Linked DNA regions of Homo sapiens: all the other regions are linked to region 1. The links come from fine-mapping of genetic effects on gene expression. A gene starts in region 1. Each other region holds a variant in brackets. All regions are shown on one strand. Distances are from middle to middle.

What was found. PIP is the estimated chance that this variant, and not a neighbour inherited with it, causes the effect.
Region 2: its variant is the best candidate, but not a certain one, in a credible set for the expression of CDCA7L in prostate (GTEx, PIP 0.75).
Region 3: its variant is the best candidate, but not a certain one, in a credible set for the expression of CDCA7L in skeletal muscle (GTEx, PIP 0.82).
Region 4: its variant is the best candidate, but not a certain one, in a credible set for the expression of CDCA7L in prefrontal cortex (CommonMind, PIP 0.55).
Region 5: its variant is the best candidate, but not a certain one, in a credible set for the expression of CDCA7L in whole blood (INTERVAL, PIP 0.58).
Region 6: its variant is the best candidate, but not a certain one, in a credible set for the expression of CDCA7L in whole blood (TOPMed, PIP 0.89).
Region 7: its variant is the best candidate, but not a certain one, in a credible set for the expression of CDCA7L in monocytes (BLUEPRINT, PIP 0.71).

The regions. Positions count from the first base shown.
Region 1 is chr7:21,944,141-21,948,292 of GRCh38, forward strand. It overlaps CDCA7L (cell division cycle associated 7 like), which reads right to left and starts at 1,759. Exons shown (of 10, transcript NM_018719.5): 1 at 1,641-1,759. The coding sequence starts at 1,664. RefSeq lists a silencer at 1,378-1,427 and enhancers at 1,568-1,717, 1,713-2,423, 2,108-2,357.
Region 2 is chr7:21,770,585-21,774,584 of GRCh38, forward strand. DNAH11 (dynein axonemal heavy chain 11) reads left to right here. Exons shown (of 82, transcript NM_001277115.2): 56 at 3,182-3,415. Among named protein-coding and RNA genes, the nearest start is that of CDCA7L, 170 kb to the right of the region's middle. RefSeq lists enhancers at 1,168-1,800, 1,234-1,842. The variant A/G (reference allele first, on the strand shown) is at 1,829.
Region 3 is chr7:21,902,515-21,906,666 of GRCh38, forward strand. It overlaps CDCA7L (cell division cycle associated 7 like), which reads right to left. Exons shown (of 10, transcript NM_018719.5): 5 at 4,054-4,125; 6 at 3,775-3,942; 7 at 2,992-3,117; 8 at 1,596-1,745; 9 at 464-600. Among named protein-coding and RNA genes, the nearest start is that of CDCA7L, 41 kb to the right of the region's middle. The variant T/C (reference allele first, on the strand shown) is at 2,475.
Region 4 is chr7:21,717,207-21,721,206 of GRCh38, forward strand. DNAH11 (dynein axonemal heavy chain 11) reads left to right here. Exons shown (of 82, transcript NM_001277115.2): 43 at 569-719; 44 at 3,519-3,650. Among named protein-coding and RNA genes, the nearest start is that of DNAH11, 180 kb to the left of the region's middle. The variant C/G (reference allele first, on the strand shown) is at 1,836.
Region 5 is chr7:21,873,859-21,877,858 of GRCh38, forward strand. All of the region lies in intron 74 of DNAH11 (dynein axonemal heavy chain 11), which reads left to right. Among named protein-coding and RNA genes, the nearest start is that of CDCA7L, 70 kb to the right of the region's middle. The variant C/T (reference allele first, on the strand shown) is at 1,761.
Region 6 is chr7:21,839,266-21,843,265 of GRCh38, forward strand. DNAH11 (dynein axonemal heavy chain 11) reads left to right here. Exons shown (of 82, transcript NM_001277115.2): 66 at 3,279-3,483. Among named protein-coding and RNA genes, the nearest start is that of CDCA7L, 100 kb to the right of the region's middle. The variant T/G (reference allele first, on the strand shown) is at 2,358.
Region 7 is chr7:21,919,621-21,923,772 of GRCh38, forward strand. All of the region lies in intron 1 of CDCA7L (cell division cycle associated 7 like), which reads right to left. Among named protein-coding and RNA genes, the nearest start is that of CDCA7L, 24 kb to the right of the region's middle. The variant C/CA (reference allele first, on the strand shown) is at 1,722.

The DNA.
Region 1 (4,152 bases):
AGAAGGTTAGGACGCCAGCCGGAAGTGGTGGCTCACGCCTGTAATCCCAGCACTTTGGGAGGCCGAGGCAGGTGGATCACCTGAGGTCAGCAGTTCAAGACCAGACTGGACAACATTGTGAAACCCTGTCTCTACTAAAAAAAAAAAAAAAATACAAAAAATTAGACAGGCGTGGTGGCGGGCGCCTGTAATCCCAGCTACTCGGGACGCTGAGGCAGGAAAATTGCTTGAACCCGGGAGGCGAAGGTTGCAGTGAGCCGAGGTCGCGCCATTACACTCCACCCCGGACAAGAGCGAAACTCCGTCTCCAAAAAAAAAAAAAAAAAAAAAAGGATGCTAATACACGGTAAAAGCCAGTGGCAAAAAATAAAAAATCGAACCCTGTCTCATTCCGTAGGCTTTACTGTTTCCCTTGCTTTTAATAGTTTATCTCACAGGAGGCATTTTAAAAATATTCTCAGAAACATCAACAACAGATTTTTCTCAAGCGACCATTTTCAGGAAGGCTTCAGAAATTACTAAAAGGCCAAAGCTACCGTTAGTGGCTCAGTCTTTGCCGCCAGACTCGGGCAGGTGACAGCGGTTTGGGCTCGGGCGCCGGGCACTCTGCGCCTTCCAACGCTGGCGGCCCCGCCTCCCCTTCTCCCGGGCCAGGCACGCAGGTGGAGGAAAGTAAACACCAGTCGGAAGCAAGGTGGAAGCAGTGAGTCTCGCGACTCTCAATAAAACAAGTGGAAAAAAAAAAAAAAACAATCCTCGCACAAAGCATCTCCGTGCTCCCACAAGCAGAGGCGTGGCTGCTTGTTTCCCTTTTTAAAGGTTGTATTTTTAGTTCTTATGAAAAATGTTTTTATTGCTTACTTCTAAGTAAACATGTATCTCCATTACGATAACGTAGAGAAAAGCTCTTTTAAGAAGTAAAAAGAGAAAACTGAAGTCACGTTCACATTCCCACTACTCACTGAAACGTTTGGGGGAACTTACTCAAGTGTTTGCTAATGAGTTTTAAAGACGAGTTAGGCCCTTAACGCGTAATTGGGGTCGTGCTGTGCATATGATTTGGGATCTTGCAGCTTGTTTAACTCGGCCCAATGACGTTACCATTTCCCCCAAATGGTTACTAATTCCTTGAAAACGTTTACAAAAGTTCTAGAATAAACACTAAAGTTATTATTTTTAAACTCCATTATCCAAGTTGGACTGGTCTGGCGATCGACTGTTAAAAAAAAAAAATTACAACTTTCTTAAGCTTCCTGATCTCTGTGCCAATTCCCGGAGAAAGTGTGGGGAGTGCACAAAAAAAGCCCCTCCCCCGTCTCACGAGGGCTGCAAACGCAGGCGCTGCGCCCCGCTAGCTCCCCGCCTGCACCCCCGGCGGCCACCCGAGACTGAGCAGAGCGCCAGGCTGAGCGCGGTTGTGTGCTGGGGCGACCGGCCTCTGTGGTCCGCGTAGCACAAACGTGACCCACTGCGCACACCTGCAGGGCGCGCCCACTCCGGCACTCAACCGGCTGGGCGCGCCAGATCCCCAGTGCCGCAGCCAAGGGCCACGTTTCCAGCCCAAGGCCAGCAGGACCGGGTGGCAAAGGGAAGTCAAACTGTGGGTGCGTCCGGACGGCGGCGGGCGGCCGGACCCTCACCTGGTAGCGAGTCGCCAACTCCATTCTTCCTAACCGGGCTCCAGTCTCCTCCCAGCACGCGGCCACGGGAGCCCGGACTCACCACGGCCCGGCGCACCAAGAACGCCCCGCGCCCGAGCAGCTAGCGCGCTCCGCCCGGAGCACAGGCGGGCCCCGGGAGGGGCGCACTTGACGCCCTGGACAGGGGGAGCGCGTTGCGCTGCCCCCTCGGTGCCGCCTCACTGGGCCTCGTGGCTCCGATCACGTTCCAACTTCGCGGCCACTGACCTTGTCTTCGCAGGCGGCGCGAGAGGGGGCTGCAGTTGGGCGCGGCAAGAGCAATTACCAGTGTTAGGGCGCCGGGCTCCCCCCTGCAGCAGAGGGAGGGAGTGGAGCCGTCCGGCGGGGTTTAGCGCGGGAGAAATGAGGGGGCTGTCCCGGCGCAGCCTCCAGCTGGCACGCGCGCTGGATACTTGGCAGGGTTTATTCCAGGTCATGCCCTGGGGCGCGAGCTTCTGCTGCAACCCCTGTCTCTGATCCAGGCAAATATTGTAGGGCGGCTTTGGGGCTTGTTTTGTTTTGTTGTTGTAACGGGGCAGGGTTCTCTTTGGGAAGATTCTGTCTCCCAAAACATTTGCTACAGGGTTCACTTTGCAGAACAGGCAACCCAGGTTTCTTTACCAAGGCCCAGGTGGACAGATGCAAACCCGCCTGAAACTTTAGACGGCCATTACACAGTAGGCCTCCACACCCACCAGACAAAGAGTTTGTAGAGGTCAGGAATGCTGACTAATTTAACAGAATTGACCCCGGCATCTACTAAGCATCAGGCACTGGGCTAGTCCTAGGAACAGAAGGGTGAACAAAAACAGGCCCCTGCTCTGTTGGAGTTTACAGCCTGAGAGCCAGTTACCAACCTAATTGCATTATTCTAAATAAATACAATAATGATGCAAATAAGTGTAATAACGATGTAAATTTTATAAATTAGATTTATAATTAATATTAATTTGATACCACTATCAATGACAAATGTAATGATGATGCAAATAAATGTAAATTTGGAGCGATGATGCCATGAGAAAAAAGGCAAGTGGTATTAATGGTGGTGTGAAATAGGAAGACAATCTGATAGAGGTCAGGGAATACTTCTTAGAGTTCAGATATGAAGAGTGAGGAATTAAGTTTGTGGAAATTGTGGGAGAGTTGAAGTAGAGAGTGGGGAGAATGGTAAATGAAGTTGTCCTGAAATCACAGCAGGTTTGCTGGACAGTGTTGCACACCTATTTAGAACCGTGGTCATAGGTTTACAGTAGAGCATCCTGTACGCATAGGACCTTCTGCAGCCCCTCTCAGCTGCTTAGGATCTGACGTTCATCTTTTCTTTATTGAACGAGTGAATGAAATTTGCCAAACATTTACTCAAGCTTGAAGAGAAAACATGGAAAAGGTTTCCTTCCTTCCTTTGGTTAGTTCAGCAAACAACATGTGTTATGTGCTTTCATGTTCCAGCCCTCAGTGTTCTCACTTCCTGGTGGTAGTAAAACCAATACAACATTGTGTGACTTAAAATGTTTTGTTTTTATTGGATAATGTTATTTATTCATTATGGCCACTTCATTTTTATTATGCTTTAGAGTTTTCCTTCACATGCAGTATCTCCTTGAATCCTCTCAATATCCTTCCAGATCCTTATTGTCCACATTTTTAAAATAAGGAAACAGAATCTAAGAAAATACATTAAGAGATCCCTGCCACCCTGCCACTAAGTGACAGCAGCAGACTGCCAAACTGAAAACCATTCCTTATGCCTCCAGATCCAACATTCTTTCCATTTTTCTGTATTTTTTCCCTTTGGCTGCCAGGAAGCTTAGAGTGAAAATTAATTCAATCAGAGCTCTTCTTCCTCTTTTTTTTTTTTTAGATAGTTGCTTCCTCATGAACTGCTGATCTTGTTTGCACTTCTTTTCATTGTAGGTTAAATCAAATCAATTTTGGAAAAGGGAGCACAAATTTGAAGCAGGTCAGATTTTGCAAAACACTTGAAGCAGCCTAGACTAGCTACTTCTGTATCAGGAAACCTGTAAGCTGTTGAACCTTTCTGTTTAGAAATTTGCCATAACTAACCCTAAGTCTTCAGATGACAACCCCTAAATTTTCTTCCTGTGCTTAGCAAAGCCTGTACACGTTTGATGGTATTTAGTAATTGATTATATAGTGGTGTGTTTTGTTTTGTTTTGTTTTGTTTTGTTTTGGTCAGGCTTTGGGAAAATCTCTAAGGAACCAGAGGATTTAAACATGGCACTGCAGTAATACTTTCTAATAATTATTACTGATAGGGTTCACGGGATGTGAGCACTGGGTTTCATCATGGCACTGCAAGAATGAGTGTCCCTTCCAGATGCAACAGTATACATATTGCAACACAGAAAAAGAAGACATAATGTTTGCAACTTCTTTTAAGAAGTCTGTCTAGAAATCCATGCTTGATTGCTTTTTAAATGTTTCCATGAGAGAGTAAAAACTTGGTCCC
Region 2 (4,000 bases), 170 kb before region 1:
CCCAAGAGTAAATAATGCCGCTGGTAAGGGGTACATCTGCAGTTTGACACCAGAGCCCATAGTCTTAAATCCTTCTTTTGACTATTGCATGAATGTTTGACTATTGGGAAAGCAGTAAAAGAAGAAAGGAAACAGAATTTTTAAAGGAGCAATTTTGTGGGCAGGAAGAAGTACAGGAGGGTATGCAGTATCTTACCAGATTTTTCAGAACTGGAAATCTAGCCCAGGTCCTAGGATTCAAACCCTTTGTCCCTGGCTCCCTCCGGAATCTTCTTCTCAGAGCAAAACAGCACTATGAAGAGCTTAGGACAAGTGTTAAAATGCAACACTGCCCATTTTATGCATTGTAAGTTTTCTTTCTTTAATAAGCCACCATGCAACCACAAATATCTTATTAATATATTCTTCTACCAGCCCTAAAAGGAGCAAAAAGATCAAATAGATTGTGTAGCACATCAGTTTGACATATTTAAAATTTAACACAGAAATAATTTCTGAGAAAAATGTTCAAGACTTACTGTAGGTATATGGCATTTAATGTGACAAAATTGTCCCAAGTTACACTTCAAAAAGAGAGAAAATAGATTCTTTCACCTGCCCCTTTCTCTTTTGCCCTTCCTCCCTCCCTCCCTTGAATACAGTGCTCTTGAAAGCCCAAATTTAGTATTACAGACCAATGTAGTCATCTTTGCTGGTCTTGGGAAGGTATAAAATCCTAAACTGATTTAGTGCTGACCTCTGGGTATTGGTTTATATTCAACTCTGCTGTTTGTCATTTTCAAGAGGAATATACTGGGCACTTGCTTGAAGTGCCAGGTGGCTGGAGTACTTGGTGTGGCAGAGACTACTCCTGCCCGAGAACTGTCACACCAAATAGCAGAGATCTGTTTATGTTTTTGTGTTGACAGTGAGCCAACTGAGAGAGTAGAAATTAAACACGTTTTCTTAATGTGAGGGAAAGCAGTTTCATCTTTGCATTTGATTATGCGTTGGAGACAGCATCGTTTTCCAGAGCATCTTAGTGGGGAAACCTTGAGTTTATAACCATTCGATACTGGCACTCTGCTTATTTTTATTTTTGCCATCATCATGATTAGCTGCTAAATGACTATAAGTGGTTATCAACTGGTTTTTATTAAGAGGCCAAATCTAGCAGGAATGATATTCTCCCCTCACGTCTCTCAAAGTGAAAAATACAGCATTGCGTAGCCCTCGCTGCGGCAGCACCAGCAGCAACTCCTCTCAATTCTCCCCCAACGCCCCCCACAAAAAAAAATAATAAAATAAAATAACTGGAGATAAATGAATGGCAGAATAAATAATTTATGCTAATGAAATTACTGCAATTAGTAGTTCTACAATGACCCTTTTAAAAGCCACAGCTGTTAATGTCAGGAAGTGCTGTCACTACTGACCTTATCATAAGAGAAAGTGACAAATTGAGAATGCAGGGAAGACCAGTCATCAAAGAGGTCTGTTCTGGAACGATTAGAGTTTTCTGAAAAACAGTGTGAATTACAACCAGCTGCTCCCTGGCTCAGCGAGTCTCCCATGCTGTGCCATTTTGTTAAGCCTGATAACAATAGTTATTTTGCCCCATTGAGACAAGTTGTCTCAGGCCACTTTCAGCTCTACCGGAAACCACTTCTTCCATCCCCGATTTACAAATGAAACTGTTGTTAAAGAGAGCTTTCAGCGCCTCCAAGGAGCCTCCTCATAAGGATCATGGTTGGGCAGAGGCCAGAGTGTTTTTTTTTTTTCTTCTTTCTTTCTTTTTTTTTTTCCCTTCCTGTAAGGAGGTTACACTTGGCTGAGGAATTATTTATCT[A/G]TATTGTAGAAAGGTATGTGTGTACCTTTAGTTCCCATTAAAACAAGACAGGACAGGAGTAAATTCCTGCACATGTCTGTATTGAAGTCAAGCTCTTGTAAAAATAAAGTCTCCAAAGGATTATGATTTATATGAAGTTTATATAAACTTCTTCATAAATTTTATTTTTCTGAGTTCACTGTTTGGAAATATATTTGTATCTGGGGTCCACTAGAAACCAAGAATATTTGGAATTTATATCACGTTATTTTTAACTTTTGTTTTAGTAATACATTATTTCAGTTACTAGTGAGATGGATTTTTAATACGCAGCACAATGCAATATGTGGGTATTCCAAACCCACTCGGGAATTTGTCGTGATGTTGGAAAGTTGATTGTTTAAAGACATTGTTCAGGAGCAGTTGTTTTTCACCAAGAATTGGCTGGTCTCTCTTCACACCTCTGCTTGTAATATTAATGGTGCAGGTTTGAAATGTTTGACTGCATCACCAGCCACGTGTGTGCAATTTTCCCAAAGACGTCTGAGCATTATTGACAACACTTTGGTAAATTATGTGTGACTTTCCTAAGAGTTGGTGTAGCTCATTTAATTCATATTAATTGATTTGTAGGCTTCCCTTGATTAACTGAACCTGGTTCATCTTGTACAGAATGCAATAAATAATCATTAAAATGAGGGAGATGTGACTCTGCAAATTAAAAAGTTAACTACTTCAGAAGTCATAGAGGACAAAATGGAAAGAATGTATAGTGGGGGGTCTTCCAGTAACTCATTGAAGGAGAGTTGCTCTTTTTGTGGGTTTTCTTTCCCAAATATGAATAGAAATGATCATGATATTTTTCTCCCAGAAGCAGTGACATTTATACCCTACTATCCAGTTTGTTTTTACATGAGTTCTCATAAAACTGTGAGTTTCTAAGTTTTGGCTTTTTTTTTTTTTTCAGTGACTTTGCAGGGTTATTGCTTCTCTTTGTCTAAAGCTTAGTTTGAAAGCAATGGCAGAAATATTTCTCAGGATATTGTGTCTGTTTCTCCACCTTCTCTTTCACACACTCGGTAGATAAAAATCAAGTTGTGAAGATCTGTATATGCTGGCTTTTGTATTTGGTATGTGGAGCACATAAAAACCCTTTGTCCTACTTGGCAAGAAGAAGGTTACTCAAGCTGAATGCTTTATTGTAATCTCCCAAATCCTGTGGATAGCGCTTAAAGATTAAATAAGTTTTCGTAGGTTATACTATCATTTTTTTTTCTGACTTTTAGAAAAAAAATGATCATTTACTTGATTTTTTTTAAGTTGTATTTTTAATTTGAGAGGATTTCACATGAACTGTAATGTTTGTGTTTTCAGCCAGTGCACAAAGACTCTATTAGCCTTTTCATGGCACATGTTCACACCACTGTAAATGAAATGAGTACCAGATATTACCAGAATGAGAGAAGACACAACTATACCACCCCAAAGAGTTTTCTAGAACAAATATCACTGTTTAAGAACCTGTTGAAGAAGAAGCAAAATGAGGTATCCGAGAAAAAAGAACGCCTGGTGAACGGCATCCAAAAGCTAAAAACCACAGCCTCTCAGGTATGACCAGGATGTGTTATTACTGAGTAATATTTATGCTGTTTAACAGAAAAATATATTTCCTTTTGAAGCACTACTAAATCCATTTCTATAAGATGCCAGCTGGTGAAATTTACAGTTTCATGACACCAAGAATACACTGCTACTGCTTTCAAAAGCCTACAATGGGATTGGCCGACTCACAGCTGGATTAGGGTGAAACGTTCTCTTCCTGGCCTGACTCAGTGTAAGGTAGTGTGGGATATTGAAGGGAGCAGACACAGCGGATTGCCTCTCTTGTCTCTGACTTCTTCAGTGCACGGTACTTGTCGTCAAGGTTCTTATCATCCTAGGATGGACCAGTATCTTTTTTGGTCTCAGATTCTCAACCTCCAGTGAGGGCATCATTTTCTGGCTAATGACTGTGGCGAGATCCCAAGGTAGAGCTGTTCCTCCCTTAGTGACTTGTCTGCTCCTCTTACACATCTGTGTCCTCAGTCCTGAGGCCCCTGCTCCCTCGAAGGGCGATGCCTCTAACTTGCAGGAGTAAATCAGGAGAGAATCATCACAGGATGTTAATCATGTGTGGGTCTGTACACATATTAT
Region 3 (4,152 bases), 42 kb before region 1:
GTGTAGTACGCCCCAAGCATGACTTGCCTCACTCCCGCATTCCAGAACCACGATTCAGAGTTTATTAATTACATAAATGAAACTTGTAACTCACATTCTGTCCTCTTGCCCTGAACTCTCTCTCTGCACTAGGATTATGGCTGCCTCTTCATAATCTGTGTCTTTCCCCTCAGCCTGCCTTGTTTGTTTGTTCCTTCCATTTCTGTCATACACCTCAAGGAGAAATTTTGGTTAAAGGCAACGTGGAGTTGAGTTGAAAAATCTAGCAAAGGAGAAGATTCCCTAATAGGGAAAATATCAGGCCTGAGCTTTTCCAATGCAAACAGATACAGAATGGATGGTACTCGTGGTTTATATAAGTAAGTAAGTCACACGGGAAGGCAACAACTACTTGCCCAGAGGGTCTCCTGTGCTCAGCCTCAAGATTTCAAGCTGTTTTGTAAGCTGCTAGAGACTTACTTACCTCTCCAGATATTCCTTAACATTGTCATAACCATAAAACTTGGCCAGATGAATGAGGATTCCTGTGGCACAGCGGCCGTCACGCTTCCGACAGTAGCTGCAATTGCAGATCCCACGACAGGGGGGACACACCCAATCCTAACAGAGAGATGACAGCAGACACTTCGCTCATTATCTACAGGGTCTGGCAAGAACTGGGATTCGGATCCAGAATGGCTCAGCTGGCCTCTCCTCCAACCTTTAATCACATGGCATCTTTCAGTCTACGTCCCAGGGGGCTCCTCACAAGGCAGGAAGGCTGAATCACCCCACGTCACATGCAAACACTGAAAAATGACACCTTTTAGGGCTCCTTGCTTAAAAATTATGGAGATTTTCACAAGCATTTGGCCAAGCACAGGGCCCTGTGCGAGCATGCAGGTCACAGGCCCAGGATGTCAGCCCTGGTTTAGGAGCACAAGGTTTCCAAAATATCAAGGTATGAATTTCAGCCCTTTCAATGTGTGCTTATTGTTGAATGACTAACCTGAGCAGCAGTTTGTTTGTCTGTCAGTTGAGGACCATATATTTACCCCATGACTGCTGCCTAAGAGGTCACACTCGGGAGCAGGACTGCCCCAGGCTCAAGGTCGTGCCTACTCACCATGATACTATGTCTCATTTTACCGAGGGAGCTGAGAGAGGTTATACACCTATTTCATGGGATTAAACAAATTTATGGTAACAGAGTGAGCGACAGCTTGCACAGTGCCAGGCACACAGAGAGCACTCTATACTGCAATCTCCACCTCCCTCTCAGCCTGGCCCAGGAAAAACAAAACAAATCAGAGGGAAATCACTTTGCTGAAGGACAGGTACAGGGATTACTTGCATAAAACTAGAGGACTGTAAGCAAGTTTTGCTCTGACAATGGAAAATCTAACAACATTAATTCTTCTATTCACTGGTCAGCTTGCTCTCCTTCCAGAAGGAATCCCTATTTTTCATTTTCCCTGGAGCCTTAAGATACAAATGGAAGGGAAAAACCAGAGTTCTGGAGCTCCCTAGTTCCCAGTGAGAACCCAGGAGGCCCATCTTTATAGCTTGCTTCCTTCACCAATACAATTTACAACAAATGCAAACACTGTTCCTACCGGGTCCAGCAATGCCGATCTGACATCCTCCCCATAGCGGTTCCGCAGGCATGGTCCACAGAACTGTCCTCGCACACCACAGCAACCCTGGTTCCGACACACTGTCTTGGTGTCGATGGTCTTTTGTCGACACTGATGGCACGTGTTACCCTACAGGGGGAAGGCAGTGAGCAGGTGAACACAGGGATATGCTGATGCCCAATGAGGCCAGATGCCACCATGTGCATTTCCAAGTATATGAAGAAATACCCCCGTCTCCTCGAATCAAGCAGGACTGTTTTCCTAAGAACCACAGCATTGTCTCTAGACCGGGGTCCCCAGCCCCCAGGCTAGAACCAGTCTGTGGCCTGTTTGGAACCGGGCTGCACAGCAGGAAGTGAGCAGCGGACGGGCGAGCATTACCGCCTGAGCTCTGCCTCCTGTCAGATCAGCAGCAGCATTAGATTCTCATAGGAGCACAAACCCTCTATTGTGAATTGCACATGTGAGGGATCTAGGTTGTGCACCCTTTATAAGAATCTAATGCCCGATGATCTGAGGTGGAACAGTTTCATCCTGAAACCATCCCCTTCCTGCCCCCCAAATCCATGGAAAAACTGTCTTTCACAAAACCAGTCCCTGGTGCCAAAAAGGTTGGGGACCACTGCTCTAGAATGTAACCATCACAGGTCTGTGGCCAGAGAAACATATTAGGTCAGATGAGGCTGAGCAGAGACCCAGAAGGAATGAAATGATCAGGCTGTCAGGAAGAGAGACCAGAGAAAAGCTTGAGGCAGGGGTGGCAGAGCCCCTGAAAGGTGACAGGTGACTGAGGGGCAATGAGCCTTGGGTGGCATCACCTCGGCCCCAGCCTAGCTCTGCAGACCTGGATACCTTCAA[T/C]GTGAGATCTATTTTTTTTTAAATATTGGCAACTAAATTTAAAACTTGACAGTGTCCCGTTACATATCCAGAAAAACACAAAAAAAATGCAGAACGCAAAGCCTCCCTCTAAATCACCATTTAGAAGAAATTTAACCCATTTCCTACCAAAGATATTCTGCCAAACTTTAATTTCTATGGTTATATTACCCCCCAAATATACTTTTTTCAATATTTAGAACATAAAACTATATGCTTAAACCATTAACAGTTACATATAAAAATCCCTTTTAAACTATACCGTTCCCTTCCCCCAGATTCTACGCATCCCTAAGAGAGACCGCCGTCCAGATGGGAATTACTGCACTAGGCTGCCTCCCCTTTCCCAGGTACAGCTGACTTTTGACCCTCCAATTCAGAGCCTGGCTCTGAGCCCTTGGTGAGATGGCATAAGCCCTGATAGAGTTTAAAAACAAGTGAGATTTCAATACCAATGCCTTCGACTCCCAATAAGAATGACAATTAATGTATACTTTACCAGAACTTTATCATAGATTTTATCTCGAACAGTTATGGCAACATTTTCTAAGTCCTCTTCGGTGATATCCTCCACTGGCCGAAAAGAAGATATACGGTGACGTCGTCTGTACTCCCGGCATTTCCCCTGCACAATGAACACAAGCAGAACATGGAGATGTGTTGAGCAGTTATAAAAAAATTATAAATATTTTAAACTCTCAAAGATCTAGCACCATTAATGTTAACCCCGTCCCTCTTCTATTTCCCTGCAGCCATTTCATTTAGTTATTTACTGAGCTCCTGCCACCTGCCAAGCTTCCTTCTCAGCAAGGCGATACAATCATAAAGGAGGAACTCAAGGTTTTTGGTTCTTTGCTGTAAACTCTGTGGAGAGGTGAACCACACTGAACAGCCAAACCCACAAATGGGTCCACAGTTGCTCCCTCCAAACTGAAAGCGCTTGAAACGCCTCATGCCTAAAACAGAAAGGCAAGGAGGAATCACTGCACTTTTCTTTATTGCCTGCAGCAGAGATTAAAGCAGGGTCCTAACAAATGAGCTGCTTCTCAGCTCGGCTTGGATAAAAGACTCTCTCTGTGACCTCCAGCTTAGACCAGGGCTGCTTCTCAAAGTGTGATCTCAGGAGCAATGGCATCACCTGGGAAGCAGAGAGAAATGCAAGTTCTCAGCTGCCGCAGACCCACGGGGTCAGAACCAGCCCTGGGGTGACAGTGACGTGCGTTCACGTTTGGAGGGATGGTAGCTCAGACAAAAACTAATTCATGTATTAGTCAGAAAATACCCCAATTGTCTTCCTTCTTCGGAAGCTGTAAAACTCTTCCGCAAATTTAGCGGCTGAGACAGTGAAGTTCTCTAGAGCAAACTTCTCAGGAGGCCGCGCACTCCGGGTTGGGTTCATACGCCGCGTGATCTGTCCCTCCGAGAAGGCCCGCCTCACTGTCTTCTTCCTCTGAAATCAAGAGCACAGACAGAGACAACTGGGGACTCTCTCGAATAAAAGCCGTCTGGTGGCTGATCACCATATATCAGTATTGGTATAATTATAAGGAGTTCTACTTACAGAAGCTGAGGTTGGGGTTCGTACTGGGAAGAAATCTGGCATCGAGTTCAATTCCGCCAATAACTGGGCAAGCTGAAGTTCAGAACAAAAGAAAGAATC
Region 4 (4,000 bases), 230 kb before region 1:
CACACACACACACACCCCAGCACCCAAGCATGAAACGCCATATCAGAGCCACCTATTGGAAACTCGTTAGCAGCTATCAGATTGGAGTTACATTCAGTCCATTGAAAAAGGAGACACTTTGAAATAGCCCCTACGGAATTTTCATCTTTTTATTCGTAACTGATTTCTTATTACTAAATAATTGATGCCAAGATTAATCAAGAAAAATCACAAGCTGTTTTCATAAATAAGGCCTACACTATGGGAATAGTTTCAGCCCTTCAGGAAATGACATAGTGCACTTCCTCATAAATGCTCGGTAATGGTCTACTTATATTCCATTATGTTTGGCTTCTGAGTGCTATTAGGAGTTTCTTTTACAGTCTTTTCATTAAGGTAAAATGGCCATTAAAACAAGTTTTTAAAGGGCCATTTTAAAATATTTGCAGTTTGAAAAATAGAACGAACTCACTAAACGTGTCCTTGAAGTGTTGCACCAAGCTGTGTCAAAGGAGGAAGCTTTTGACTTGGTGAAATTCTGCTTTTCAAGCCTAGTGTTCAATAAAAGCTTTTCTGTGTTCCTTTTCAGGTATGTGGCCAGTTGGATAGACAGAAGGCGGCATCAATCAGAAAAGGCCAATTTGACTATTCTTTTTGATAAATATGTCCCTGCATGCTTGGATAAACTGAGAACAAGCTTTAAAACCATCACTTCAATTCCTGAGAGTAGCCTGGTGCAGGTTTGTCTTCGGTTACGCCATTTAACGTTCTAGTTCTGATGCGGTAGTGTTTGTTGATCAAGACAACAGAAGATCTTGCCTTGCCCAAGAAAGTGAGAAGATTTCTGGAATTGTTAGATTGCTGCAACCCTCTTGCCCCCGCCCCCGTCCCCCATGTTCCCTGGATCTTTTTGCAAACCTCTATCACATTCTGTTAGTGTTTAAGTTTGTGCTCTCCTTCTTTTCACAATCTTGTGAAAGAAGGTTAGAACCATGTTTTACTGATTTTTTTTTAGTATCCCCAGATAGCTCTTAGCACATAGTAGGTGCCAGATATGTGTTTGTTGAATCACTGTGTTCCTTTCCAGTGTCTTTGCACAGAATTAGAAGAACAAAGTTGCAATAGCTTTATTTATTTTTCTGGTTCCTAAGTAACTTGCCCAGAGAAGGTGCTCAGTATGTTTTCTAATAAAACAAATTTGTGCAATTAAAGATGCCAGCCAGTGAGTAAGAGAAAGCCTCTGAATTCTACCACCTAGGTGCCACCACTCACAGGCCTCCCCCTCCCAAAAATATTCATGGAGGAGTGTCAGTCTGGATGAAGAGTTCATAATATCCCAGGGATATATTTTTTCTCATCTTCATCTTGAGACAGCTGGTAAGAGTGAGGGTTACACATAATATGTTGTCATGGAAGCCAATGAAAATAATTCACAACACACAGAAATGAAGGCTGTGATCTTCATCTCAGCATGAAGAAAAACTATCCCCAGCCCTTAGAAGTAGAAGACTTCATGAAAAGGTTTACAATTAGAAACCCCCACACCCTTTTTTTGCTATAAGAGCAAAATTGCTTTCTAAGTACTTTGTTACCATTAAGTGAGTGTGTTACCAAATTTGTTTGACGCAAAATTAGAAATAGTCACAAGCATAATAAGAAGAGAAAGTTCAGGTTTTTGGATAATTCGCACACCAATTAAATAAACGATAGTCTTCAACAGTAATTATCTGAGGTATAATTTATTTCCGAAAGCAGGTCTGAATTTGTTCATTATGAATTAATTATGTAGTTAGCCTAATTAGACTCCCTCTGGTGTAATACTTGCAAAAAAGCATTATCGTGTTCTTTCTCAAGTT[C/G]ACTTGTGTATTTGTGTGATTCTCTGTGGTGTGAACTTTTCCATTCAAGAGTAGTGTGAAAATAGGTCAGTAGGAATTAATATGATTTCTGCTCTACTTCTTTCTTTTGTTGTATTCAGAAAGGGCATTTAATTTTTAGCTCCTTTTAAGCTGTTGTTTTATAGAGTAATTTCTCTTCTGTGGTTACTAATAAGTATGGAAATTTGAGACAAAAATGGGTATAAGAAGATAGTGACCTGAAATGGCTATCTTGAGAAATTAATGCACTCTGTTTTCCGATATATGACGCCTCTTTAAGTTTGGTAAGGTTTATTAACTCTTTCAGATTACTCATTAAAGTACGTTAAATGCTGACACAGAACTCAAAATATATTTCAAGTACTGTGGGAGAAAATAGAAGAAACACATGGCCGTATTCGTGTGTTCATCTCAGCAGATAGCGTCACGTTGAGACCCTTCAGTCTTTTTTGTTTTGATTTCAACAGTGCCTTAGAACAACATGGCTTCTACTAAAAAATAACAAAGCCTCAGAGTTTTACACTGTTTTTCTTAATAGCAAATTGGTGAGTTTTTTTCTATTAAAAGATTATTTCAAATTGGCAAATGTGGCACAACATGAAATAATAGAAGCCAAGAAAGAAGATTAAAGAATATAATAGGTGCTCAATAATTTAAATGAAAAGTATTTCCCCATCTTCTGTGGCAAGGAAGGAAAGGCACACACACAGTGCTGACCTGATCTGTGATCGCTTGCGTTGCTGTGTGTATAATAGAGATGAAAATCTATCGTTGCCTGCAAAAACTGGGGGAAGAGTCTCTTGAGTTTTTAGGATCTGTAACAGTGCTAATTAATGACGACTTTCTGTGCTTTAGAGAGCTAGCCCCAGAACCTGTTCATTACTGGTTATTATTTCACATGGTGAAGGCCTCTGCAGCAGCCGCATTCCCCTCATTGCTGGCGCAACTGCCCTAAGCATGGGCTAGGTACATGAGGACCGCCCAGCACGTTGCCATTTCACCTGGAGAGTATGAAGAACACGTTCCTGAGTTCCTGAACAGCATTTCTTTCAAGGTTAAATTTAGTTCGGTGTCCAAAAAACTGCCACAGGCTTAAGCTGCCAGTCCAACATTCTAAATTTATGACAACGGGTGGGAAACTGGCTGCCAAAGCGCTTACCGAAAGTGGTTTATCTGAATGTCCAACAAGAAGGAAATAGTAAAATAAATGCCTCTTCATCCAATGGAATCCTCTGCATCCATTCCAGTGGTGGTGTAGAGTAACACTTATTGATAAGGAAAGATGTCTTCAGTTTTTAATCAAGGAAGTGGATTATAGAATACTATTTAGAAAATGATTTCCTATTTATAAAAAAGTGAATATGTACCCTTTTTTTTTTTTGCTTATGTGTGATTTTGGTTTGTATACTGATTATTAACTGGATTGTTTAAAATTTTGTTTTTAAAAAATAGTTTATTACCTAGATCATTTTGGTTGAAAGTGACAAGTTTTCTACTGTTAACTTAGACACCCAAGGTGGTAATTTTTGTCTCTCCCAATGTAGCAAATCACAGCTGGGAAAAACTATGTACTCTCTTAAGGATAAAGTGGAGTTGTAAAAATATTCTTTGAACTTCACTATTTTAAAAAAATGTTGCCTTATTTGACTATTTCTTTTTCTTTAGACTCTATGTGTTCTTTTGGAGTGCTTGCTGACTCCTGAAAATGTACCTTCTGACAGCCCAAAAGAAGTTTATGAAGTCTATTTTGTATTTGCTTGTATCTGGGCTTTTGGAGGCACCCTGCTACAAGATCAGGTATGTTTAGAAATAGTTTACAGGACCAGTTTCCAGTTTTGTGTGGGACAGGGTCATGGGGAGGTTAAAACATGTGATCTGTACCTTTTTGTTATGTTATAGATCTATACTGCTTGCCCTGTTCTCTCCTAAGTCTATGCATTCTCTGGGTAGTCCCATCCCTGATGGTTCTAACCCCAGCTGACAATGCCAAATCCATACCCTCCAGCCTGGCTGTGTCTTCTGAACTGAAAGTTCTGTGTTTCTGGCTGCTCTGGGGCCTCGCCTTCAGCATGCTGTTCTACAAGAAGCCCCACTCAGTGTGCCTGAGACAGATCTCCTCCTCTGCCCCATACTCCAACTTGCCCCTG
Region 5 (4,000 bases), 70 kb before region 1:
TGCCTCACTGCAACTTCCACCTCCCGGGTTCAAGCAATTCTCCTGCCTCAGCCTCCTGAGTAGCTGTGATTACAGCTGCATACCACCACGCCCGGCTAATTTTTGTATTTTTAGTAGAGATGGGGTTTCACCATGTTGACCAGACTGGTCTTGAACTCCTGACCTCAGGTGATCCACCTGCCTCGGCCTCCCAAAGTGCTGGGATTACAGACATGAGCCACCGCGCCTGGCCGGAACTTGCTTCTTGAAAACAAATGTGGCACACTAGTATCTCTGACCACAGAAAGAGAAGAAGCCATTGTTATTCTTGTTGATGATGGCGACAGTAATGACATGGTAAAAGTTTCAGTGTAGTGTTTTAGCCCGGTTTGATATGAGTAAATTTAAAGGCCTCTTTTTGGGTTATATCTATGACACCTTATTTATATGTTCATGTTTTTCCAAGATAAGACAAATGAATACTTACATGGTTTTTTTTTGTTTTTGGTTTTTTTGAGACAGAGTTTTGCTCTTGTCGCCCAGGCTGGAGTGCAATGACATGATCTTGGCTCACTGCAACCTCAGCCTCCCAGGTTGAAGCGATTCTCCTGCCTCAGCCTCCCAGGTAGCTGGGATTACAGGCGCCCACCACCAAGCCCAGCTAACTTTTGTATTTTTAGTAGAGACAGGGTTTCATCATGTTAGCCAGGCTGGTCTCGAACTCCTGACCTCAGGTGATCTGTTCACCTTGGCCTCCCAATTCCACCTTGGCTGGAATTACAGGTGTGAGCCACTGCACCTGGCCAAATACATATATAAATTAATACATAAATACATACGTATATATACATATATATACACATATATATGATATATATATGATACCTTTATTACCATTACTCTTTTTACCCAAACTATCCTATCTATCAACATCATTGTCAAGTCTTTCAGTTTCCTTTCTTGCTATTGCTCTGAGATCTTCCTTCCTTCCTCTAATTTTTTGGAAATCCTTGGTAAATCGCATTCTTGTTAGGACAGTAGAATGAACCCTAAAGAGGAAATACATATGATTTGGTGATAAATATTCAGCCCCCTCTTAGAAATATCATTCTCTACGAAGCATGTTAACATCCTTAGCTTCTTTTCTCGTAACTTTTGGGTCAATACGTAAACCAACATTATGAAGGAATTATGATAATTGACTACCTAAGAATACAGTGTTGAAGAATGCAGTTAATTACTTCATTAAATAATTGAGTAATTTTTATCCTATATATACACACAAGATTGTGTAAATAGTAGGACTCAAAAAATCTTTTTGAAACTATTAAGTATCTGCAATATGCCTTATTTAATCCACTATGACAGACATATATGTTTTTTAATCATCTCTTAATTTATAATTTCTGGCTATTTATGACATTTTCAAGCTATTTCCCAAAGTACATACAAAGAGGAATTTGATTTATTTAAATAGGACTTATCTGCCCCCTAAAATAAGTATCTTTATTCATGAAAGTGAACATTTCATGAACAAATATGCTTCAGCCCAATTATCCTTCAGCTTTTTTGTTCGTTTGTTTGTTTTGTTTTTTTGGTAAAGATCACTTCGAGAATCTCATAAAACTGTGGACACTCTCCCCAGGGAAATACACGTTCGAAAATATACTGCACATTGGGCCAGACACAGTGCCTCATGCCTACAATCCCAGCACTTTAGGAGGCTGAGAGGAGGATCACTTGAGCCCAGGAGTTCGAGGCTGCAGTGAGCTATGATCACA[C/T]CACTGTGCTTCAGCCTGGGCAACAGAGCGAGACACTGTCTCAAAAAATAATAATAAGTGTTAAAAATATGTTGCATATAATGATAAAGATTCACAGATTCCCCCAAAGCCTATGCATGAATTCCCTAGTTAAGAACACCTGTTCTGGTCTTTTCATGAACCTGTCAATTCTTTTGACTGCTATCTGGAAAGCCACTTTTATTAATTGAAGGTTACTTTTATTAGAAGGGCTTTTAGGAACTTCAAGGAAGAATATTTCTTTTTTTTTTTTTTTTTTTTTTTTGAGACAGAGTCTCACTCTATCGCCCAGGCTGGAGTGCAGTGGTACGATCTCGGCTCACTGCAAGCTCCGCCTCCCAGGTTCACGCCATTCTCCTGCCTCAGCCTCCCGAGTAGCTGGGACTACAGGTGCCTGCCACCATGCACGGCTAATTTTTTGAGTTTTTTAGTAGAGACGGGGTTTCACCGTGTTAGCCAGGATGGTCTTGATCTCCTGACCTTGTGATCTGCCCGCCTCGGCATCCGAAGTGCTGGGATTACAGGCGTGAGCCACCGCACCTGGCCCAAGGAAGAATATTGCTTATTTAGTGGAGAGGATCCTCTGAAATATTAAGACTGAACTTGATGTTAAGTAGCAAAAGCAAAGATAACCAAAGTGATTCACTAAATAATCTTCTCATCAAACCTATCTTAGCCAGAGCCAACCAACAAAATAAAAAATGTGCAGAAAATCTAAAATGTTAGAGTCTTTTATGAATGCTGACCTGTCATTATGTTAGAAAACAAAATGCAGTTTTTAATCAGATTATATAATTCAAGGGATTTAGCCTGTGCTCCCTGGCTCTCTGTGAATATGTTCCCATTGCCCTTTTATCAGTTAGAATGTTGGGTTGGCTACTTTTGAAAAAAGTTCTTATAAAATAACAGTGGCTTATACAAGGTCAAAAAGTAGTCCTGCCACATGAGAGTTTTACAGATAGTCCATTCAGAAGTCATGTGTTACCACAAATTGTCATCAATCTGGCTCTTTATAGTTCACCATTTCTAGAATGGGCTTTTCACGGTCCCAGGTGGCTGCAGGAGTTGCAGCCCCCATATCCACATTCCTGACAGGAGGATGGAAGAAGAAACAAACAAGATGACAAAAGGAAAAGGACGGTGTTTGCTTTGTTGTGCAAGTGCTTCCTACAAGTTAACAAACAGAAATTCTCCTTTCATCTCATTGGTCAAACTTAGTCACATTGCATTACCTAGCTGCAAGAGAGGCTGGGAAAAGTGAATTTATCTTAAGCAACCATATGCCCAGCTAAAAATTAGCAAGAAGACATTTTAAGGAAGGCAATCAGCAGTCTCCATCACAGATGTCCTTTCCCACATCTCCTTGTATTATTTGGGGTGTTCTGTGTTGCTGCTGTGGTCCAATCTTGTTAAAGCCTGTGTATGGATAGATTGATGAATGCTATCTCTCTTGTTACCCATATGGGTTAGGTAAATGAGGACCAGTTGTTCCTGTTGCCTGGGTGTCCCTCACAGTGGAGTAAAATACCCAAGAGGTTTAGACAAGTCAACTGTACTGCTAGGGTATTTTTCAAATCTAATTAAACCTTTTTTTTCTTTTTTTTGCTCTGTCACCCAGGCTGAAGTGCAGCAGCACACTTATAGCTCACTGCAGCCTTGAACTCCTGGGCTCAAGTAATCCTCCTGCCTCAGCCTCCTGAGTAGCTGGGACTACAGGTGTATGCCACTATGCCTGGCTAATTTTTAAATCCATATTTTTAATCTTTCCCCTCAATTTAGAATTTACCTCCAAACTTTGGCATGTGTATTCAAAATGAACAGTTTGTTTAATACTAGTGCTTTATTATCCTGAGCATTCCAGAATATTTATGTAAATTTAATCAAGTGGCTGGGACATAAAGAACCATTTCTTGTAGGATACCATCTACCTACGCCTTTCAGCTAAAGAGCCTCTTGAGGCTAGGCACGGTGGCTCACGCCTGTAATCCCAGCACTTTGGGAGGCCGAGGCGGGCGGATCACGAGGTCAGGAGATTGAGATCATCCTGGCTAAAAAGGTGAAACCCCATCTCTACTAAAAATACAAAAAATTAGCCAGGCGTGGTGGTGGGCGCCTGTAGTCCCAGCTACTCGGGAGGCTGAGGCAGGAGAATGGCATGAACCCGGGAGGCAGAGGTTGCAATGAGCAGAGATCGCGCTACTGCACTCCAGCCTGGGCAACAC
Region 6 (4,000 bases), 100 kb before region 1:
TAAATCACTATATTAAAAGTTGATGCCGACCGGGTATGGTGACTCACGCCTGTAATCCCAGCACTTTGGTAGGCTGAGGGGGGCAAATCACGAGGTCAGGAGTTTGAGACCAGCCTGGACAACATGGTGAAACCCTGTCTCTACTAAAAAATACAAAAAATTAGCTGGGTGTGGTGGTGGGCGCCTGTAGTCCCAGCTACTCAGGAGGCTGAGGCAGGAAAATGGCGTGAACCCAGGAGGCAGAGCTTTCAGGGATCCGAGATCACACCACTGCACTCCAACCTGGGCGACAGAGTGAGACTCCGTTTCAAAAAAAAAAAAAGGGGACGTATGTAATGCACAGGTATATACTGGCTTGGGCAGAAGAGGGTTGCTAGCTGAATTGCTTATTCTCCTCTTGGAAAACAATTAAATAGTAGGAGGTACTGACAAGGTAAAAACAAATCCAAACTGAATAAAGTGAATAAATTCACCATTCAACTAATAGGGTTTTCAAAAGTGGCTTATCTGGCAGAATTTTTTCAAGTTTAGACACTTAATCAACAACTCTGAAGGTTTCTGTTGTCAGTGTAAGATCACTCTGCAGGGAAAACAACATTTGAGAATTAGATGAAGACAATAGGTCATAAGTCTGATCAGTCCTTTGGGATTTTAAATTCATATTCAGGCAACAAAAGCTTTAGTAATGTAAGAAAATTTTAATTTTTAAATAGTCTTTACACATTAAAACCAGTTGTCTCATTAAAAATGTTTCCAGTCAAATAACACAGCCAGTGGTTCAGAGGCACTTTCCTTACCATAGACACAAGAGACCTAATCTCTGAGCAAGACACAATTATAAAACATCATCCAAGAACCACAGAAAACATTGCCACTTTATGGCATTCTGGATATCACTCCTCAAATTAAAAATTGTTGCTAATATTGTGACATTTCGATAAAAAGGAGCCCTGTCTGAATGCGATAGAACATCTTTTCTTTAGAATTTTCCCAGTTGTTCAAAATTGACAAATTCAGTGAAATAACATCTCACCTGGAAGTCAATGAGATAGGCAATAAATATTTTTTTCTCATGGCTATTTAAAATAATTTCAATTAAAATAATTGGGCTCTGGCTAATTTTCTATCATGACATCTATACAATTTAAATATTTTATACACTTAATAATGAAGAATCCAAAATTTTCATATGTAAGGTAAAATAGAAGACTGAGCCGAGACTGTTTGCTGCAGCCATGCCTCTAGGCCTCATAAGAAGTTTCACTCTAAGCAGCTTAGGCCGCTTTGAGAAGTTCCAGTATTCGTGGTTTTGGCTTCTCTGTCTCTTGCATGAATTAGAAAGCTCCCCCTTTACTAGATCCTCATAGCAGGTTCCTAGCAGGAAAGAGACCATGAAGCTTGTATGAAAACATCTCATGTACCCCATAAATACATATGATTACTACGTACCCTTAAATTAAAAAAATAACATGAATTAAGCTGGGAGTTTTGAATAGAATTAGCCTAGTGACTATTTACAGAAATAATTTTCAGAGGAAAGGGTTAAGTAGAGATGTTGAGGCAGACAAGGATTTGCAGTTACAGGAAGCCAATGCAGAAAGTATTGGAAAGTAATTTTTTAAATATATGTGTTGGGCTGGGTGAGGTGCCTCACACCTGTAATCCTAGCACTTTGGAAGGCCAAGGCGGGTGGATCACCTGAGGTCAGTAGTTGGAGACCAGCCTGACCAGCATGGCAAAACCCCATCTCTACTAAAAATATACAAAAATTAGCTGGGCGTGGTGGCATGCACCTGTAATCTCAGCTACTCAGGAGGCTGAGGCACAAGAATGACTTGAACCCAGGAGGTGGAGGTTGCAGTGAGCCAAAATTGTACCATTGCATTTCAGCCTGGGTGAAGGAGTGAGACACTGTCACACACACACAAAAAAGAATATATGTGTTTTTAATATTTCATCTTTATAAAAATAAAATATTTTAATACGTTATTTAAGATACATAAGTATATTAAATACATACTTAAGATGCATTATACATATATATACAGATATACATAAACACATACATACACATCTTATCCTTAAAGAACTGCAACATTTAATGTATGTTTAATCACAGAAAGTACAGCTGGCCCTGAAATAACATACTTTCATGCTAATGTTGATGAGGGAAAAAAACATCACTTCCTGCTTGCTGGGACCACTGTCTGTGTGGAGTTTGCACACGTTCCCCATGTCTGCCTGGGTTTTCTCTTTTCCTCCTGTTTCCTCCCATATCCCACAGCTGTGCATGTTAGGTGAGCTGGAATGTCTATATGGTCCCAGTGTGAGTGAGTGAGTGTGGGGGTGTGTGAGTG[T/G]CCCTGCCATGGGATGACATCCTGTCCAGGGCTGGTTCCCACCTGGTGCCCTGAGTTTCCAGGGTAGTGTGCAGCCACCCGGGAGCCTGAACTGGAATCAGTGGGTTAGAAAAGGAATGAATGAGTGAATACAAACTATTGTCAAATAAAAATTTGTAAATTAGACGATAATCATACAAATGCACGACACTGAACATTGCACTACAAAAGCCCTTCTCAAGCCTGCCAGATCTGTCATTGCTTTTGAACTGTGTGGTGGTAGGAGGTGCTGCTTAAGATTTTCTGCTTTGTACACATTTATTTCTCAATTTAACCTGCCCCCTCTATGCCCACCATTTCTCACTAATGCACCAAAAATTGAGTAAATAATTATCTTGTTTTTATTAACCTTTTAAAATGTATATGTAGCTCACATTTATTTCAGTGTTTAATATTAGAGGTGTTTGAGGCCTTTATTTAGAAGTTTGATGATGTTTTTGTGACCAGGAACATGCCATAGGAACTTCACTCTTGTTTATATCAATTAGTCAGTGGTAAAACTGGTTTCTTCATATGTTGTTTTGCTTAAAGTCACAGTTTGCAAGTTTATCGATTACATCGAGGACTTACTGTATAATAATAAAAGCTAATATTTGTTGTTATAGGTCTTTTATATGATTGTATTTAATTGTTACAGTGACACTATGGGGTGAGTACTATTATTGTCAATATTTCACATATGAGGAAACTAAATCATATAGAGATTTGCTGGGTGATTGCTGATCCTGCTGTACTTTAGGAAATTTGGGAGTAGCTGAAAAATTCTCAATCACCTGAGCTTCTGGCCAAGGTCCATTATAAGAATACAGGAATGGAATGACACCGTAGTATCAGTTATGGGTCATAGGAGTCTCCTGAAAGTCTGTGTTTTGCTCCGTTTAGGTATATCAGGATTGGAGATAAAGAATGTGAATTTAACAAGAACTTTCGCCTTATCCTTCACACAAAATTGGCAAATCCTCACTATAAGCCGGAATTACAAGCTCAGACAACTCTCCTCAATTTCACAGTCACAGAAGATGGTCTAGAAGCCCAGCTGCTGGCAGAGGTTGTCAGTATTGAAAGGCCAGATTTGGAGAAACTTAAGGTAAAAATGTTTACGTCACCACCAACACTTAGTCGGCATTTGCTTTGCACAAATCACAGTGCTAGACATAGAAGTATAAAATAGGATTCCTGCCCTCTAGAATCCTGCAACCTAATTGGGAAAAATAAGTATACATGTTAAAAGTTAAACAATTCAAAGTTGCTCTTCATAAATGCTAGATTGTTACGGTTATGCCACACGTAGGAGATAGGGTGGCTCTGGATCTTGTTTGAGGGCAAACAAAGAGGCATACGAGTCATGTAAAATAGAGGTATGTGCCCAGGTATGTTGGAATGTAATCGACTAATTTAGCCTGGGCTAAAGAATGAAAAAGAGGTATAATGAAGCAAGCTTGGAAGAATTAAGGACCTGGTAGCTAGTTGTGACTAGTATTCAAAGGGACATTCATGGCCTTAAGTATATTAAGAAACAATGCTGAAAATACTGAAATTTAGTGTTATATACAGAAAACAAAGCAACATAGCCTTAAAATGTAGAAGAAAGGCAATAATAAAGA
Region 7 (4,152 bases), 25 kb before region 1:
AATTCAAATCCAACACGGAGGCTTCTTCCTCTGCTCCCTCATCTCTCCCTCATCTCACATTAGCATCGCCGTTCCACCACAAGGAAAACCCTCGATTCCCAAAATTTTTAATATACTTATCCATGTGGTGCTCTATCTACAATAAACACAAAATAGCGCCAAACTGACGCCACCAATATACTACCAACAACAAACAGTGCAGTTCAAGATTTCTTTGCAGTTCTTTCTAGCCCTGGAACATAGTCTCACTATACACAGGATCTTTTCCTTCAGCTAACCAGATGATCATTGTACATGGTTATGCAAAAATGTTTCACATGTACTTCCCATTTCATCATGCAGTATATTAAAAAGATGTCCTTAACAGTTGAGACTTAATAATTTTTACTGTTTCATCAGAACATTCTTATGTGAAACTGACATTTTCTTTTTAAATTGAGTGCATGGAGGTGAATGCAATGACTACTAATACAGTTTGTTGCTACCACCTGGATTCATGCTAAAGATCAGCAGTTTTCTCCACTTTGGCTTTTGCACAATCAGTGCAAATATCAACACAGCAAAAAGGGCAAATAATCTTAGTATTATTATGACATTACATTCGCCCTCATGGACCCGTGAAAGGGTCTCAGGTCCTCCATCTCACACTTTGACCACTGCACTAGCATATACAGAGTTGTGTATTCAAAAGCTACTTAGCTTCGTGGAATTCTCTGTGTGGGTGTGTTGACTTAATTTTACATTTAGTCAGGTTCCATTTAGGAAACTGGTAATCCTTAATCTATTTACTTTCATCCTTATTTTAATGCTTCTTGATTAAAAATAATTAGAAAATAATGGTTCAATCAAAGGAAGTGTAACATAAATACAGAAATGGGATACCCCAAGTTCAGTGATGCTGAAGGGTTAATACAAACACTTTCCCACCATCTAATAAAATCACTGCAAGGGACAAACAAGAACAACACTTACAGAAGTAGAGTTCCACTAACAATTTTTTTACCAGCCACACGTAGTGCAGCACTAGCAAAGCCTAACTCTGACATCATTCTTGGGGAAAATATTGAAACTTTTCTCAAGGAGGTATGTTAAACAATGTTTGCCACCTTATCTTTTCAAAGACACCTTTTGTTGTTGTTTAGCACTCAGAACTAATACGCAAGGAAAACACCCAGACTAGAGAAACACAGACAATACTTATGAAAGTGTGCCTATGTTGTAGCTACATAATAGCCACTGAGTTCAGTCCCTGCAGAGGCACTAAGAGGGACAGTGTGTCAATTTCAGTCTTTTTCTTTTGGCCTTCTCACCATTCTACAAAATTCAAACAGCCCTGCTGGCCCAGAAGCTTCTTTTAACATAAATGGTTTAAAGGAGGAGGAGCACCCCATTTATGGATTTAATGGAAATACATACAAGGAATGGAGAGGGTTGGTGATAGGAATAAACTGCTTCCAGCAGCAACTGCATTAGTCCCTGTGCTATTGTGTTCAGCCCCACCACTGCTGCGAGCCTGTGTCTGACTAGCTAATTCCTCCTTCTGCATCTTTGACTTCTGCATCTGCTCCAGAGGTACCATTAGGGGGCTATAATTACTGATTAGGAACAAAAGGAAAGAGCACACTTTCAAAAAAACGGTGTGCATTCCTGGGGTACGCAGGGCTCTGATCCTTCAAAAGGTATTAAAAGAGTTTCAGATAGTCACAAGCTTCAAGATTTGC[C/CA]AAAAAAAAAAAAAAAACTGTAAAATATTCAAGTGTCCTCAATGCAACGAACTGATTTGTCTAACAGATGCAACAAAGGCAGCAAGATTTATATGAGAAGGACCTGATAGAAAGGATACACAGGGACCTCTTCTAATGAATGACCAGTTCCACAACACAGTGATACATTAGGCCCAAGGATCTGTCACTTTCCTGTTCCATTCAGCAGCGATCCACTGGGTAGCTGCATAGTCTAGACAAAAATGCAAGACCTTTTTTTTTTTTTTTCAAAGTTTGTGTTCCATTCTATTACAATAAAGCCAATCATAAGACTCACCAAAAAGAAAACTACAACAAGTAACTGAAAACAACAAAAATACAAAATTTCTCAATCAATGGATATTTACATTAGTTGAACTTCTGAATTAGGATAACTACTATCTAGTGAACCAAAAAAAAAAGGGAAAATTCTCATCTGAAAGTGAAAAGACCGTTTCATTATTTATAATACTTGTTAAAAATCGACAACTTCATGCTATTCCTTTCATGTACAGTTTCTGTTTGTCTACTCTGTCTTTATTGGAATTAACAGTGTGAATATCATCAAAAGTCATATGGGGGACCAGGATTCAATTCTATGAGAACACAGGTACTAGAATGGAATCCACAGGCACCTAACATAGAGCCCAGCCTAAAGCAGATGATCAACAAACCCTTGCTGAAAGCATTTACATGCATCTGACTTTGTAGCCATTTTCTTAAGAAAGGTGTATTTTACTAGGAAAATACTAAGTCAAAAAGGTACACTCTGTGACATTCCTACATGAGGGGAATTAAAAATTTTCACCCAGAATCCTAAGACATCTTTCTACAAAGCAGTCATATTCACAGCTCCCCTTTCAGAAAGGACTGCAGGTTTCCCTTATAAGCCATACAGATTACCTGAGAGCTTTTCTCTGAAATACATTATGCCAACTCAACAGGCTTTGGGGCCAAGCAGGTGGGTAACAGGGCAGTAGGTCAGCTGTAGGACAATATGGGATGGTGCTGACTGGTAGGCTGAACACATATATCAGGGAAGGCAGGCCACTCCTCCACTCCAGCTGATCACTGCCCTGCAGGAACAGGGGTCTGGTGTGTCTGACCTCCAACATTCCCAGAGAACCTGAGAATCTGAGTGTTGGTAAGAAACTTCCCATCTACAGACTGGATCTCAAACTTGTTCAGGGAACATGCACGGTGGAACTCATAGGGCTCTGTGGGACACCAAGGAAACTGCAAATGCCAGAATTCCAAATATTACCAACAGTATTAATATATCTACTAGTGCCTAGTAGTAATAGTAGAGGGCATCAAAGTGTTAAGAAGATTAAGAAAAACTTTATATCCTTTCCCTTATTCATGGCATCATGATTCACAAGAGCCAAAAGGTGGAAGCAATCCAAGTATCCATCGATGGATAAATGGATAAACAAAATGTGAGACATACATATAATTGAATATTATTCAACACTAAAAAGGAAGGAAATTATGACACATGCCACAACATGGATGAACTTTGAAGACGTTATGCTAAATGATAATAACCCAGTCTCGATAAAACCAAGAACGGTATGATTCTACTTATAACAGGTACCTAGAGTGGTTGAATCCTCGGAGACAGCAGAATGGCACTTGCCAGATGCTGAGGGGAGGGAGAAACGTGGAGTTACTGTTTAATGGATACAGATTCAGCTTTCCAAGATGGAAAGAGTTTTGGAATTTAAATATGCTTAACACTACTGAACCATACATTTTAAAATGGCTAAGATAGGAGATTTTATGTTATATGTATCTTAGCACAATTTAAAAAGAATTCAACGAAAAAAGACAAGAAAGACAATTTAAGCCAGGCATGGTGGTTCATACCTGTAATCCCAGCACTCTGGGAGGCCGAGGCAGGAAGATCACTTGACCCCAGGGGTTTGAGACCAGCCTAGGCAACATGGTGAGACCCCGTCTCTACCAAAAAAGATACAAAAATCAGCTGGGTTGTGGTGGCGTGTGCCTGTAGTCCCAGCTACTCATGAAGCTAAAATGGGAGGATCGGTTGAGCCCATGAGTTAGAGGCTGCATGCAGTGAGCTATGATCATACCACTACACTACAGTCAGGGTGTCAGTGAGACCCTGTCTCTAAAAGAGAAAAAGAAAAAAAGAAAAACCGGGGTAGAGGGGAATTTTTCCTTCCTTAAGTGAATGAAATCTTCCAAACTGACAGAACAAGTCCAGACCTTAGCCTAGTTTTAATGGTACCATCACTTTAGGGGCATGTGGCTTAAGAACCCAACTCTCTCACCTAAGGGAGGTTCAGATACATCATTGTAGGTGCCAAGGCTTCAGCTTTAGTGTCTGACCAACCAGGTATCTGAGCCTGTAAGCCCATTAGTTAACTGATAGTCTGGAGGACAAAGC